2 linked regions of the Homo sapiens genome follow. The protein of the gene in region 1 interacts with the protein of each later gene in a biochemical or structural test. Each region holds a gene or a part of one and is shown on either strand. Other genes may lie near its edges.

Region 1 (7,528 bases):
TCGGGCCACACATTGGGCCTGGCTGTGACGATGGGCTCAGGAAGAACAGGGAACACCCCACTTACCTCTGCCCTGGTGTTGGGAGGTCAAGGGAAATGGGATAGGAGACCTTTAACAGTGACCTTTAATCCCCCTGTCCCAGCTCTTTGAAGGATGCAGAGGGGTGGGGACGTCCTTCTTACCTCCTGCATTTTGTTCCTGCTGCCAGCCACCCAGCCACATCAGACAGGGTCTTGCTGTCCTGAGGACCAGGGCTGTGTCCCTGGTGAACCCCAGAGTACCCAGGTAGGCCCCCTGTTGCCTCTTCCCACAGGAAGAAGCTCTCCAACTTCTTGCATGCCCAGCAGTGGAAGGGCGCCTCCAACTACGTGGCGAAGCGCTACATCGAGCCCGTAGACCGGGATGTGTACTTTGAGGACGTGCGTCTACAGATGGAGGCCAAGCTCTGGGGGGAGGAGTATAATCGGCACAAGCCCCCCAAGCAGGTGCGTGGCCCCACTACCTGCCCCCTTTCCATGCCAGGGCAGCTGGGCACAGTGTCTGGGAAAGAGGGCCATGGTGAATCCCTATTTCACCTTCTTTTTTTTTTTTTTTGAGATGAAGTCTTGCTCTGTCACCCACCACCAAGGCTGGAGTGCAGTGGCATGATCTTGGCTCACTGCAACCTCCATCTCCCAGGTTCAAGCGATTCTCCTGCCTCAGCCACCCCAGTAGCTGGGATTACATACAGGTGCCTGCCACCACATCTGGCTAATTTTTGTATTTTTAGTAGAGATGTGGTTTCACCATGTTGGCCAGGCTGGTCTCGAACTCCTGACCTCAAGTGATCTGCCTGCCTTGGCCTCCCAAAGTGCTGGGATTACAGGTGTGAGCCACCATACCTGGCCTCTTTCACCTTCTTAATAGTAGCTAATAACAACCACTGTTTACTGAGCATGATGAACCAAGTCATTTATTTTATTTTTATTTTTTTTGAGACAGGATCTTTCTTGGTTGCCCAGGCCAGAGTGCAGTGGCATAATTACAGCTCACTGCAGCCTCAACCTCCTGGGCTTGAACAATCCTCCCAGCTTGGCCTCCTGAGTAGCTGGGACTACAGGGGTATGCCACCATGCCTAGCTAATTTTTGTATTTTCTGTAGAGAAAGGGTTTTGCCATGTTGCCCAGGCTGGTTTCAAACTCCTGGCCTCAAGCAATCCATCCACCTCGGCCTCCCAAAGGGCTGGGATTACAGGCGTGAGCCATTGCACTTGTTCCAGAGTCATTTATTCCTAAAAACAGAGCTCTGAGGTCGGAATGTTTTTATCCTCAATTACAGATGGGATCTATTAGTCAGGATTTTTGTTTGCAAATGACAGAAACCCACTCAAACTGCTTAATCCGAAAAGGGAATTCATTGCCTTATGTAACTGAAAAATAATGCTGCCACAGGCACGGCTGGATGCAGGATTAAACTGAGGTTGTCAGAATCTTCCTCCATCTCTGGCCTGGGTGTTCTTCTGGGTTGGCGTCATTCTCAGGCAGCCTCTGCACTAGTGGTAGCACTCTGGCCCCCAGCAGGCCCAAGTTCTTGTTGGAATGACAAAACCTATTTCCCCAGAAGTTCCAATAAAAGTCCCAGAGCTGCGTTTCATTGGCTCTGATTAAGTCAGATCCCTATTGCCGAGCCAATCACAGTGGCCAAGGGGCAGGAATATGCAGATTGGGCACACCCTAGCCATGTGCCTGCCCTTAGAGCTAGGAATGTAGGTGTTCCACCCAGACCACAGGGACTGAGACTGGAAAAGGTGAGATTCCCAAGAAAAAGCGGAAGAAAGAGCTGGGAATGTATATTAGTCCGTTTTCACACTTCTGATAAAGACATACCCAAGACTGGGTAATTTATAAAAGAAAAAGAGGTTTAATGGACAGATAGTTCCATGTGGCTGGGGAGGCCTCACAATCATGGCAGAAGGCAAAAGGCACATCTTACCTGGTGGCAGACAAGAGAGATTGAGGACCAAGCAAAGGGGGTTTCCCCTTATAAAACCATCAGATCTCGTGAGACTTATTCACTATCATGAGAACAGTATGGGGGAAACCACCCCCATGATTCAATTATCTCCTACCAGGTCCCTCCCACAACACGTGGGAATTATGGGAGCTACAATTCAAGATGAGCTTTGAGTGGGGACACAGCCAAACCATATCATAGTGGATACTATGTCTGCTCTTTGGGAAACCCTGGGCTCAAAGAGGCTAAATGACTTCCCCAACCAGGCAGAGCTGTAGCCAGGTCTCAAATGCAGGCTTTTCAACCCCCTGCTAGGTTGGCACCTTCATTTGAGCCCCTAGGGTGATGAGTGACTGAGGCCAAGCAGAATTCCCTGTTGCCTTTCGGCATTTGAGGAAGGATCCATGCCTCTGCCCTGCATGAGCCCACAGCTGAGATCTTCCACAGCTTGAGCATCTACTACATACAACGCACAGTCTCCTGGGTGTGCAGAATTTATTGAGCACCTGCTGTTTGCAGAGCCCTTGATGAAGCATACTTGAGGCAGGCGCAAGAAGCCACAGTCCCCACCCTGGGGGGCTGTGGCTTCCTCTGCAATTTGCGGCCTTCCAGCCTGGCCTCCTTTCTCTTCCTCCACAAGCTTGTTCCTGCCCCAAAACCTTGGCCCTGGCTGTGGGCTTGGCGGGCATCTTGTGTCACCGTAATTCTTGCATGGCTAGCTACTTCTTATAGTTCAGGTCTCAGATCCTGTGTCACCTCCTCAGCCAGCCCATCTCAGACAACCCTAAGAAGTGGTCCCTCTGCCCCAGTCACCTCTGTCACATCATTCTAACTTTTTTTTTTTTTCCTGTTCTTTGGAGCAGTTAGTATGTCATTCATTTAGTTAATATTTTAGGTGCTTCTCTCCCCTAAAGGCAGAGATTTTATTTTATCATGTTCACTGCTGTCTCCTAGTGCCTAGGTGTCCAGTAAATAATACTGTGGTAGGCCTGGCACAGTGGCTCATGCCTGTAATCCCAGCACTTTGGGAGGCTGAAGTGGGCGGATCACCTGAGGTCAGGAGTTCGAGACCAGCCTGGCCAACATGGTGAAACCCCCGCCTCTACTAAAAATACAAAATTAGCTGGGCATGGTGGTGCACGCCTGTAATCCCAGCTACTTGGGAGGCTGAGGCAGGAGAATCACTTGAACACGAGAGGCGGAGGCTGCAGTGAGCCGAGATTGGGCTACTGCACTCCGGCCTGGGTGACAGAGCAAGACTCCATCCCCAAATAGTAGTAGTAGTAGTAGTAGTAACAATAATAATAATAATAATAATAATGTGGTTGACTTAAGGGAGGGAGAGAGACGTGGTTGTTTGAGAAGGTGCTGGTTGTCCACTGTGGCTGTACCACTGCCCCTCGCCCAGGGAGCCCTCTGGCCCAGCAGGTGGCCCTGCTGTAAGTTTCCTTGTAGGGATGGGACCAGCCTTTGGGCAGAACCCTCTGAGAACCGCCGCTCCCTGCCTTCCCCTCAGGCCGGTTCTCAGAACCCATTGAAGCCTTGTTTGGGGCAAGTTCTCACCTCTCAGATCAGGACCCCTTCGGCCTCTGCATCTGTTGTCTGCATGTCTGGTGACCCACTCTCCATGGATGGTCGTTTCCTTGGGAAACCTGGACCTAATCCTCCCAGGAGGTGGCATTGAGGAGGACATGGGAACCAAGGATGAGTCCTTGTGTAACAGGGCAAGAGGTGCAAGCTAGAGTCCCTAATCTCCCCTACTCCACTTTACAAACCATATGCACTATTTATACATTTTCTTCTGTGTACAAAATTAAACATAGACTTTATAAAAACAAAAAAAATTCGGCAAGGAATGTCAAAGTTCCCTATAATTTCCCATTGCAGGGAGAAAACTGCTGTTTAGAGGTTGGTTTATATTTCTCTAGAATTGTAGCTCCTGATAAAAATGAGTTGCCAGGCACAGTGGCTCATGCTTGTAATCTCAGCACTTTGGAAAGCCCGGGGTGGGGGGGCGGATCACTTGAGGTCAGGAGTTCAAGACCAGCCTGGCCAACATGGTAAAACCCATCTCTACTAAAAATACAAAAATTAGGCAGGCATGGAGGCGGGTGCCTGTAGTCCCAGCTACTCAAGAGGCTGAGGCAGAGGAATTGCTTGAACCTGGGAGGCAGAGGTTGCAGTGAGCCAAGATCGTGCCACTGCAGTCCAGCCTGGGCAACAGCCTGGGCAATAAAATATAAAATAAAATGAAAGCAAACATTGCCTGGCTCCTTTTTGCATCAATAAGTTTAATTCACAGACTGAGCCTGAGACCCTCTTTATGCAGGTAAAGAAACTGAGGCACAGAGAGGTGAAATTCAGAAATGTTCCCAAATTCACAGTTTTACTGTAAGGCATAGTCTAAGTTGCTTAGCAAACAGACCCACAAAATATGTGTGGACACGAAATGGTTTCTTTTTCACTTGTGTGGAGGTCTTGCATTGGTGGGTGGCTTGGGGTAGGCTTGTTTGTGCCTCATCTCCTTGAAGCCATCTAGAGAACTCGTTCCTTTGGTCTTTTTTCTCTGCCATCCCCTCAGGGGTTTGCCATGGACCACATAATCAATTCTGGCTCCCAAGCAGAGTCCACCTTACAGGGCAGGCTGGAGTTACATCATTGCAATGCTCACTTCCCATTGGCTGGGCACAGTCATGTGGCCACACTTAGCTGCAAGGGAAGCTTAGCAATGTCATCCCTAGTGGGTGGCTGTGTACCCTTTTAAAACTCAAAGGAAAACAGAGCTGAGCACAGTGGCTGCAGCTTGTCATCCTAATGCTCTGGGAGGATGCTGGAAGACAAGAGGATTGCTTGAGGCCAGTTCTTGAGGCCAGTTCAAGACCAGCCTAGGCAACATAGTGAGACCTCGTCTCTATAAAAAAATTTAGATATGAGCCATGTGTAGTGACACACGCCTGTAGTCCTAGCTTCTCGGGAGGCTGAGGTGGGAGGATCACTTGAGCCCAGAAGTATGAGGCTGTAATGAGCCATGATTATGACACTGCACTCCAGCCTGGGCGACAGAGTGAGACCCTGTCTCTAAAATAAATTTTTTTTTTTTTAAGACGGAGTCTCACTCTGTCATCCAGGCTGGAGTGCAGTGACATGATCTTGGCTCACTGCAACCTCTGCCTCCTGGGTTAAAGTGATACTCCTGCCTCGACACCCTGAGTAGCTGGGATTTTTGGTACGCACAAGCACGCCCAGCTAATTTTTGTATTTTTATTTTATTAATTTTTTTTTTGAGACGGAGTTTTGCTCTTGTTGCTCAGGGCTGGAGTGCAGTGGTGCAATCTTGGCTCACTGCAACCTCTGCCTCCCAGGTTCAAGTGATTCTCCTGCCTCAGCCTCCAGAGTAGCTGGGATTACAGGCATGTGCCACCATGCCTGGCTAATTTTGTATTTTTGGTAGAGACAGGGTTTCACCATGTTGGCCACGGTTGGTCTCCAACTCCTGGCCTCAGGTGATCCACACACCTTGGCCTCCCAAAGGGCTGGGATTACAGGTGTGAGCCACCATGCCCAGCCTTAATTTTTGTATTTTTAGTAGAGGCAGGATTTCACCATGTTGGCCAGGCTGGTCTCGAACTCCTAACCTCAACTGATTCACCTGCCTCAGCCTCCCAAAGTGCTGGGATTACAGATGTAAGCCACCGTGCCCAGCCTAAAAATATATTTTTTTTAATTTTAAAAAAATTAAAGGAAAAGAGGAGATTAGATTCTGGGCATCATCAGGAGCTCCTACAATAGAGAGCTAGTAAGTCATGGAGCCAGGGTCTGAGCCCAGGCAGGCGAGTTCCTCTGAGCCCTCCCCTTGCCGCTTCTCAGAGGAGGTGCGCCTGGGCCCTCCCGCCTGAGCCCACTCCCCATCCCACCAGGTGGACATCATGCAGATGTGCATCATCGAGCTGAAGGACAGACCGGGCAAGCCCCTCTTCCACCTGGAGCACTACATCGAGGGCAAGTACATCAAGTACAACTCCAACTCTGGCTTTGTCCGCGATGACAACATCCGCCTGACGCCGCAGGTGAGGCCGAGCTCACCTCCACCCTCTGCCCACCACAGCCCTTGGGGTGAGATCCTGGCCAGGCTCAGCCCCTAAAGAGGAAGGTCCCTGTGGGCTTGGAGTCTCACCCCCAGAGAAGCCTCTTGGAGCATTCAGAAGGAGACCCGTCACCCCATGACAGCTTCTGTCACCTAAGGTGGCCACAGGACCTGCAGCCCAAGGTCCCTGCCCAACTGAAGAGGCCTTTTTCCTTTGTCTTTTCCTCTATATAACTCCTTGAAGAGAAAGCCCCTCAGCATGGGCAGAGGCGTGGCCAGTGCCTGCACAGACCTCAGCCTGTCTCTTGACATCTCGTTTTCCTTCCTGTCCCCTGTAGGCCTTCAGCCACTTCACTTTTGAGCGTTCCGGCCATCAGCTGATAGTGGTGGACATCCAGGGAGTTGGGGATCTCTACACTGACCCACAGATCCACACGGAGACGGGCACTGACTTTGGAGACGGCAACCTAGGTACGTGGGGAAAGCCAGCCTGTTTCTGCAGAAACCACGCTCCCTGCTAAAACCTCTGAGTTCTTCGTACAGCCAAGGAAACAGGCTGAGACACTGTACGCGCTTTTTCAAGATCATGGAGATGGGAGCCTGGATGTCTGATGCCTCCCAGCTTGGCACGTTTTATACCTGCCCTGGCCATATGTATGAGGCCCACCACTGCCTGTCCCCCGTCACAGAGCAAAGCAACACTCCAGACACCCCCGCTCTGTCCACAGGTGTCCGCGGGATGGCGCTCTTCTTCTACTCTCATGCCTGCAACCGGATTTGCGAGAGCATGGGCCTTGCTCCCTTTGACCTCTCGCCCCGGGAGAGGGATGCAGTGAATCAGAACACCAAGCTGCTGGTGGGTGCCCAGTGTGACCCTGCTTGGCCTGGCAGGCCCTTCTGCTACTTGCAAAGCAAGCCCTGCTCCCCTGTGTGGTGACAGCCAGGTCAAGCAGTGCTTAACTGATGAATACCAGGGCTGGAAGCATCTGTCCCATCCATGCCCCAGCCCGTCCCCTCCAGCTCAGTGCACAAAGCCCTCCTGAGCGTCCTTCCAATCGAGCAGCTGGTATCTGCTTAGGTTGGGCCCATTTTTTACCAGAGTGAGGGGAACAGGCACGTGGAGATAGTGAGAAGGCATGTGGTGTGTGTGTGTGTTTGTGTGATGTATTGACAAATGACTGAACTAGTCTTAGACCTGGCTCTCCAGGCACCTCACCAACATACCTCCCATCCTCCCATTGCTACTTGGACCAGGGACAAGAGAATGTTGCAAAGACCAGCTTGGGATGCTGGACATAGAGTGGAATGCTTTCTCCAGCTCTGGGCTGTGGAATGTGGTCAGTGCTTTAGGGGATACTGGCAGGTCCTCTGAGCCTCTGTTCCAGATGCCCTTTCTTGGAGGCCTTAGGTTTAATCCCTGACTGATTTTTTATTTTTTAAGACAATATATC
Region 2 (7,586 bases), on another chromosome or scaffold:
TGACTTGGGGAGGGTGGTCGCCAAGGGGACATGCTTGGGCAAGACCTGGTGGGCTTGAGCCACGCTGTGAATAGCACACCACGCCCCTACGTCGCTGCCACTACCCCCAGGTGTCAGGAATCCCCCACCATATCCCGCGGGGCTCACCTGTCACCCCACAGCTTCTTCATCATGTCCTCTACTTTCTTGGCCCGCTCGGCAGGCCCCAACTGGCCCTCCCCCTTGGCGGCGAACTTGGCCACATACATCTCGGCAAACTGCTTCAGGGTGAAGGCCCACCCGTGGAGGCCAGACCCAAAGCCCACGGTACCGAGGACAGGATCGATCTGGAAGTGTGAGAAACGAGAAGCAGCCGTGAGGGCCCCTGCGCAGAGCCTGAAGCTACGGGCTGGGCGCCTTGGGCATGGGCCTCAGACGCAGGCTTTCTTCAGTAGACATCTGGTCAAAGTGAAGAAATGATCAGTCATCACGAATAGGGGGGCCAGCCCCTCCACCACCCAGGGCAGCGTTCCCTGAGCTCGTCTCTTCCAGCTGCCCAAAGATCAAGGGCTGGGTCAAGTCGGATGAAAACATTCCAGCCCCCTTCTCTGTCACCCAACATTCCTGGCAAAAACACACTTCCAGTCCCCCTCAGCTCAACTCCACTCCCCACCGGCTCCTGCAGATCCCGCTGCGGCAAGCCCACCACCCAGCTAGGGAGGGCCGTACCATGATGTTGCCCATGGGGCCGCTCTCGCCCTCGCCGTAGGTGGAGATGATGACGTTCACGTTCTCCACGATGCGCTGGAAAGTCTGGTAGAGCTCCTCGGGCTCCAGCTGCAGCTCCAGCAGGGCGCGGTCCATCTTGTTCATCATCAGCACAGGCTTGATGCGCTCGGCAATGGCCTGCCGCAGCACTGTCTCCGTCTGCACGCACACGCCTGGGGACACGGGGGACAGGGCGGCGCTGTCATCCTCAAGCAAGGATGGCCCCCGGTTCCAGGCCGTGCCTCAGGGGGACCCACTGCTTACCTGACACGCAGTCCACCACCACCAATGCGCCATCGGTGACTCGGAGGGCAGCAGTCACCTCCGAGGAGAAGTCGACATGCCCGGGGGAGTCAATGAGGTTGATGAGGAAGCCGGCACCGTCCTTGCTCTGCTTGATGAAGTTCAAGTCATTCTCCGAGAGCTCGTAGAAGAGGGAGATGGCACTGATGGAGGGAGGGACTCGTCAGGGGGACAGGAGCCACACACCTGGCCCAGGGAGTCTGGGATGCTGTCAGAAGCCAGGCTGCTCCTCCCTCCATGACTCATCCCTGGAGAGGCTCCCACAAGAGCCAACCCACCCTTGTCCTTTGCCTCTGTCCGAGACATGCCACCCCCATGACAGGGAACTCCTGGTACCAGCCCCATAGCCAGATCCTCAGAGCCCTCCTGACCAGACATCCTGCCCCACCGACTTGGTCCCAAGATTCATCACACCTGACTCAAAGTAGCAACTAAAAGACCCAGCAGGACGGCAAAAGCCTCCAGAGACTCCGACCCTCCCCTCCTCACTTCTGCCCCTGCTCCAGGGGAAATGAAGAGCCTTAGCCAGAGTCCCTCACCAATGTACCAACCCAGGACAAAAAGCAGTTGGGGTCACCGTACTCTGCGCTCCCCCTACTCATATCGGGGCCAGAAACTGACATGGAATGAACATCATCCAGTGCAACACAGGAGCTTCCCAGCGTCCCAAGCACTAGAACACCCTCCCCTCCCAGGTGTGACAGCCAAACCTCTCCAGATATTGTAGGAGTGGGGGCAAGTCCCCCAGGGAGGGAGAACCACGGAGTTAAGCCCCCTCCTCAAGAAAACCTTCCAGCTCGCAGTACCCCGAATCCCTGTGCCTCTCCATCCTGTCTCGCTGGACTGAACCTCACTCATTCTCCCATGAATTAAGAAACCAGGGGAAAGAGACGTTGCCAAGTCTCTCCCCGCGCACCCTGGCCCAGTGGCCTCCAGCTGCCAGGCCAGCACCTCCCTGCCTGGGTACAGAGGGCACAGGGAGCTCACGTTGACTTGATGGTGATGCAACGCTCCTGCTCGTCCTTCCGGGTATCAGTGAAGCGTGTCTCCCCGGCCCGGGCCGAGGCGATGATGCCCGCCTTGCACACCAGGGAGTCTGTCAGCGTGGACTTGCCATGGTCCACGTGGGCGATGACAGACATGTTGCGGATGTTGGCCTTCTTGTCCATGATGGCGCGGATCTGGTCTACCGTGAAGTTCACCTGGGCAAGACAAGGAGGCTCAGACCAGCTCGTGATTTCCAGGAACACAGCATGGCACGGAGCGTTCAGTCCAAACGAACCAGCATGCCCAAGGCCAGGAGGGGGTTGGTGCTGGGGTGCCCCAAGCCCACCGAATCTTGCCAGCCTAACACCCCTTAAGAGCCACCCCGCAATCTCCAAGGAACCACCGTTAATAGGTGTCATTCATGATTGACAACCCAGAAATAAAAGTGCTCAGGAATAAAACTGAGTGTCAACAGATTTCCTTGATACCAGGTACAAATACTAAAGTCTCATTTGGGGCCAAACACGTAAGGGATGAATCCTCTCCTAAAGCCCCCTCCACGTTGTCACCGGGCCACCCAAACTTCCCCGAGCAAGAAGCTTCATCATAAAATGCAAGGTCACCCCTTGGCAAACGGGATCAGACAAGGCCACCCACCCCAGGAAATAACGGGGAGCCGGAACGGCCCTAACTGCCACAAGCCTACACCTCGTGTCTCAATAAGAGTCTTTGTACATCTGGGAGTCATAGGAAGGACAAGTGCCTAAGGTCGACGATTAACAGCATCAGGAGAAGGTATTTGGAAGGAAAAGGGGAGCCTTTCAGGTGTCGCTTTGCTCGTTCTGCCATTCCCTGCCGCCCCTAGTCCCCCGGCAGAAAATCGATCTCAAACTCGCGGCCCGCGGGTTACATAAGGCGCCTCCCTGTCTCCCCGCTTCCACCGCGGTGCCCGCCATTACTACGCCTGCCACATCATCATTCCCCACCCCCATCCCCGCTAACAACCCAGCTCCAACCAGGTCTGGGCAAGGTTATGGCGCCCTCGGAAACGGAGAAAGGGCTCGGTGAACAGCGCGGCGCACAGACATGGCGGCGGCCGCTTCCCCAGCCCCGGGTCCTCCGGCCCCGCCGCCGCTACGTCTCCTCCTGGCACGGGGGGCCCCAGCGTCCCAGGCTAGGCAGCGTAGGCCCCGCGGAGGCCCCGCCGCCGCTCCGGGGCACCAGCGAGGCAGGGTTACTCACCATGGTGGCGGATGGCGGTGGATTCTCCCAGGTAGAACCGAAAGAAGCGAGTCGCGCCGAGGATGGCGGCGACGACGGCGGAAGAGAACGCTGACGTCAACACTCAGCTTTTTATAGGCGGACGCCGGTTGGGCGGGTCATGTGACTGCGCTGCGAAGGCGGGGCGAAGGGACGCCGCGCAAGCGCACGGAGGCGTGTCCCCCCGCCCGTTAACCCATTCGGCGCCGGCGCGGCGCTCTAGAATAGAAGCTGGGCATCTCGGGGGCGGTGGTCGCCCTCGGTGTGCAGTGTTCAGGTGCACAAAGTAAAGAGCGCCGTTTTAGCTGAGAACGAGAACCATAGCAACGATATTAGCTTACAAGTTGTCCAGTACTTCTATTAAAACCAATTTACAAGGTGAATAGAGTCTGTGGATTATACCCAAGTCAATTTCCCTGTTTGGACATTGTTACGTAAGACGATACCCCTGGGAGAAGCCGAGGGAAAAAGGACACTCGCGACCACTATACTGTTTTTGCAACTCCTTACCTGTAATTATTTCTAAATAAAAACTTTATAAGAAGCAGGCATCGGAATCACTGATCCCACAAATGCATACTGAGCATCTATACACCAGGCATTGTTAGGGGTTTTGTAGATATAGCAGTGGACCAAACACCTTGCTAGCTTGACCACACTGCGTGTTCTTCTACCAGCTACTAGGATTTCTCTGTGCCTCAATTTCACCTGCTCGGAGGTGATCAATACCACCCTATTGTTTGGGGGAGAGTGAAACGAACTAAAGACATCTAAAAGAATTAGGACCGTGCCTGATACCCAACGCTCAATAAACGCTATCTATTTTAATTAGCTAAGATTGCTATTAATAAAACAGTTATTTATTTCAGGACTGGTTTGCCATGTCCCAGGCACCCGGCTAAGCGGTTTACTGGCACAATTTCATTTTCTATTTCATTTCCTCTCCAGGGGGAGGCGCAGGAAGACTGTTTAGCATTTGTGTCCTAATCTGACCCTAAGAAACAGTTGAATGTATTTCATATCTCATGAATTGGCATTCAATTGTGTAACTCTATCCCTTATGAAAAGCCCAACCCGCTGTTTAGCACATAGTAGGTACTCAGCATTTCTTGCATGAATGATGTTCTCACAGTGCAAATGAACCCCCTGCGGTACATCTTTCCTTAAACTCACTTTGTGAAACAGGAGAGCCACTGCAGTGCTTTTCCTGGGCTGGGAGAGGGGGAGGTGTGGATCCACAAAAAGCAATGCAAATTCCAGCCTGGACTCTAAAATAAACCTGTACACTCCTCCCCCTCACGAATGCTTCGGGCACTTTGCTTTACAAAGCGCTGTCTCAACCTTGGGTTTCATTTAACGGATGATTGCTCTTCCTATCACCATTTAACCCAGTGGAAAACTGAAAAGTATCTTCCGAAAGGATTGAGGCTCTGAAAGGCAGAGGGCGCGGCAGGGAGCAGATGGGAGCGCCCGGGGTCCCTAACCACCTACACCTGTACCTGTGACGCGTTTAGTTAAGTTGCAAGTCAAGCGCATGCGCCATTTGGGGCATGAGTTTTTAGCAGAGGGGTAGTCAGTTTCGCATTATTAATAATAAAATTCTTCAAAATTTTTAAATGCACTGAGCACCTGCTACGTGTTGCGTTTCCTATTGGGGGCTTCGCAGCCGTTTTTTCCGTGCAAAGTGGGAGCATTTCAGAGATGTAATGGAAAGGTTTTCATTAAAAGAGGTGTCAGGCGAGAGGCGGAGGTTGCAGTTAGCCGAGATCGCGCCACTGCTCTCCAGCCTGGCGACAGAGCGAGATTCCGTCTCAAAAAAATTTTTAAAAATTTTAAAAATTAAAGAGGGGTTAGGCTGCTTGCGGTGGATCACGCCTGTAATCCCAGCACTTTGGGAGGCCGAGGCAGGCAAATCACCTGAAGTCAGGAGTTCGAGACCAGCCTACCCAATATGGAGAAACCCCGTCTTTACTAAAAATAAAAAAATTAGCCCGGCGTGGTAGTGAACGCCTGAAATCCCAGCTACTTTGGAGGCTGAGGCAGGAGAACCGCTTGAACCCGAGAGGCAGAGGTTGCAGTGAGCCGAGATCACGGCACTGCATGCACTCCAGCCTGTGCGACTGAGAGTAAGACTCTGTCTCAAAAAAAAAAAAAAAAAAAAAGGAGGGGGGGCTGTTCACAGGTATCCCGGAACTTAATAAAAGAGGGGTTGAATTTCTTCTCAAGTGCATGGGTTGCTTATTGAAAAATTCTAACATCATGTAATTTAAAGAACTAGGGGGAGAGCTTAAGGGAAAAAGGGGAATTTTCAACCCCATAACTGCAGGGATGGAGCCAGGTGTTGGCAGGGAAGGATCTCTCCCACTGTCATCCCCACATCCATGAAGAGCAGAATCCTGGAGTACCACAAGCAGCCACAACCAGGTCAGCTGTAATAAGTACAATAATAAATATACGCTGGGTCTTTTAGGGTGGGGACCAATAAAAAAATTCACCTCTGCAGAGAAGCTCCGCTGCGCATGCGCCTGCTGCGGCGCCAGGAGAGCTCAGAGACCGCAGTAGCGGCCCCTGCTGACCGACAGTCGCCAGTGCAGGCCTCTCGACACTGCCTTTTTTTTTTTTTTTTTTTTTTTTTTTAAGACCAAGTCTCGCTCTGTTGCCACGCTGGAGTGCAGTGGTGCGGTCTCAGCTCACTGCAGCCTCCGCCACCCGATTCAAGCGATTCACCTGCCTCAGCCTCCCGATTAGCTGGGATTACAGGCGCCTGCCACCACACCCGGGTAATTTTTTTGTGTTTTTAGTAGAGACAGGGGTTTCACCATGTTGGCCGGGCTGGTCTTGAACCCCTGACCTCGTGATCTGCCCGCCTTGGCCTCCTAAAGCGCTGGGATTACAGGCGTGAGCCACCGCGCCCGGCCAACACTGTCTTTTAACAGTTTATTGAGCGTTTACTAGGACCTGACCTCACGGTCCTTTAAATCAAATACTTCAGCTAACCTACCCACACCCTGGGCTTCGGGTGGCCTCCTTTACGCCTGAGAAAATGGAGACTCAGATAAGTTAAGTCATTTGCCCACGTTCACAGAGCTAGTAAAGGTGCAGCCAAATCCGACTCAAGTAGTGGTTTAATCGGGAAGGAGCCCGGTCCTGCAACCGTTGTCTAGATGCATTTCAGATTTGGGAAAACGGGCCGGGCACGGTGGTTTATGCCTGTAATCCCAGCACTTTGGGAGGCAGAGGCAGGCGGATCATGAGCTCAGGAGATTGAGACCATCCTGGCCAACATGGCGAAACCTTGTCTCTACTAAAAATACAAAAAAATTAGCTGGGTGTGGTGGCACGTGCCTGTAATCCCAGCTACTCGGGAGGCTGAGGCACGAGAATCGCTTGAACCTAGGAGGTGGAGGTTGCAGCGAGCTGAGATTGTGCCACTGCACTCCAGCCTGGGTGACAGAGAGAGACTCCGTCTCAAAAAAAAAAAAAAAAAAAAAGGCCGGGCGCGGTGGGTCACGCCTGTAATCCCAGCACTTTGGGAGGCCGAGGCGGGCAGATCATGGGGTCAGGAGATCAAGACCATCCTGGCTAACATGGTGAAACCCCGTCTCTACTAAAAATACAAAAAATTAACCGGGCATGGTGGCAGGCGCCTGTAGTCCCAGCTACTCGGGAGGCTGAGGCAGGAGAATGGCGTGAACCTGGGAGGCGGAGCTTGCAGTGAGCCGAGATCGCGCCACTGCACTCCAGCCTGGGCGACAGAGCGAGACTCCATCTCAAAAAAAAAAAAAAAAAACAAAAAACGTGGTGGCTCACGCCTGTAATCCCAGCACTATGGGAGGCCAAGGCGGGCAGATCATGAGGTCAGGAGTTCGAGACCAGCCTGGCCAATATGATGAAACCCCATCTCTACTAAAAATACAAAAATTAGCTGGGCATGGTGGCAGACACCTGTAGTTCCAGCTACTCGAGAGACTGAGGCAGGAGAATTGCTGGAACCCGGGAGGTGGAGGTTGCAGTGAGCTGAGATGGCACCATTGCACTCTAGCCTGGGCAACAGACCAAGACTCTGTCTCAAAAAAAAAAAAAAAAAAAGTGGATTTTGTCTTTTAGATGATTAAACAAATGGGTTCAGGGAGGCCTGGTGAGTCTGTGTAGTAAGAACAGGCGCAATGGCTCACGCCTGTAGTCCCAGCACTTTGGGAGGCGGAGGTGCGTGAATCACTTGAGGTCAGGAGTTGGAGACCAGCCTGGCCAACATGACGAAACCCCATCTCTACTAAAAATACAAAAAT

The links. Proteins that work in one complex are often made in the same cells at the same time.
Region 2: of the proteins of EEF2K (region 1) and EEF2, one has a biochemical effect on the other in vitro, tested with the Homo sapiens proteins (one study listed by BioGRID).

Annotation. Positions count from the first base shown.
Region 1 is NC_000016.10:22,250,838-22,258,365, forward strand, and holds part of EEF2K (eukaryotic elongation factor 2 kinase), read left to right. Parts: intron 1-313; coding exon 314-485; intron 486-5,910; coding exon 5,911-6,060; intron 6,061-6,415; coding exon 6,416-6,548; intron 6,549-6,805; coding exon 6,806-6,933; intron 6,934-7,528. UniProt on the Homo sapiens protein: Threonine kinase that regulates protein synthesis by controlling the rate of peptide chain elongation.
Region 2 is NC_000019.10:3,982,099-3,989,684, forward strand, and holds the start of EEF2 (elongation factor 2), read right to left. Parts: upstream 3,366-7,586; 5' UTR 3,283-3,365; coding exon 3,280-3,282; intron 2,253-3,279; coding exon 2,038-2,252; intron 1,194-2,037; coding exon 1,012-1,193; intron 921-1,011; coding exon 709-920; intron 475-708; exon of another isoform or gene 409-474; intron 327-408; coding exon 148-326; intron 1-147. UniProt on the Homo sapiens protein: Catalyzes the GTP-dependent ribosomal translocation step during translation elongation.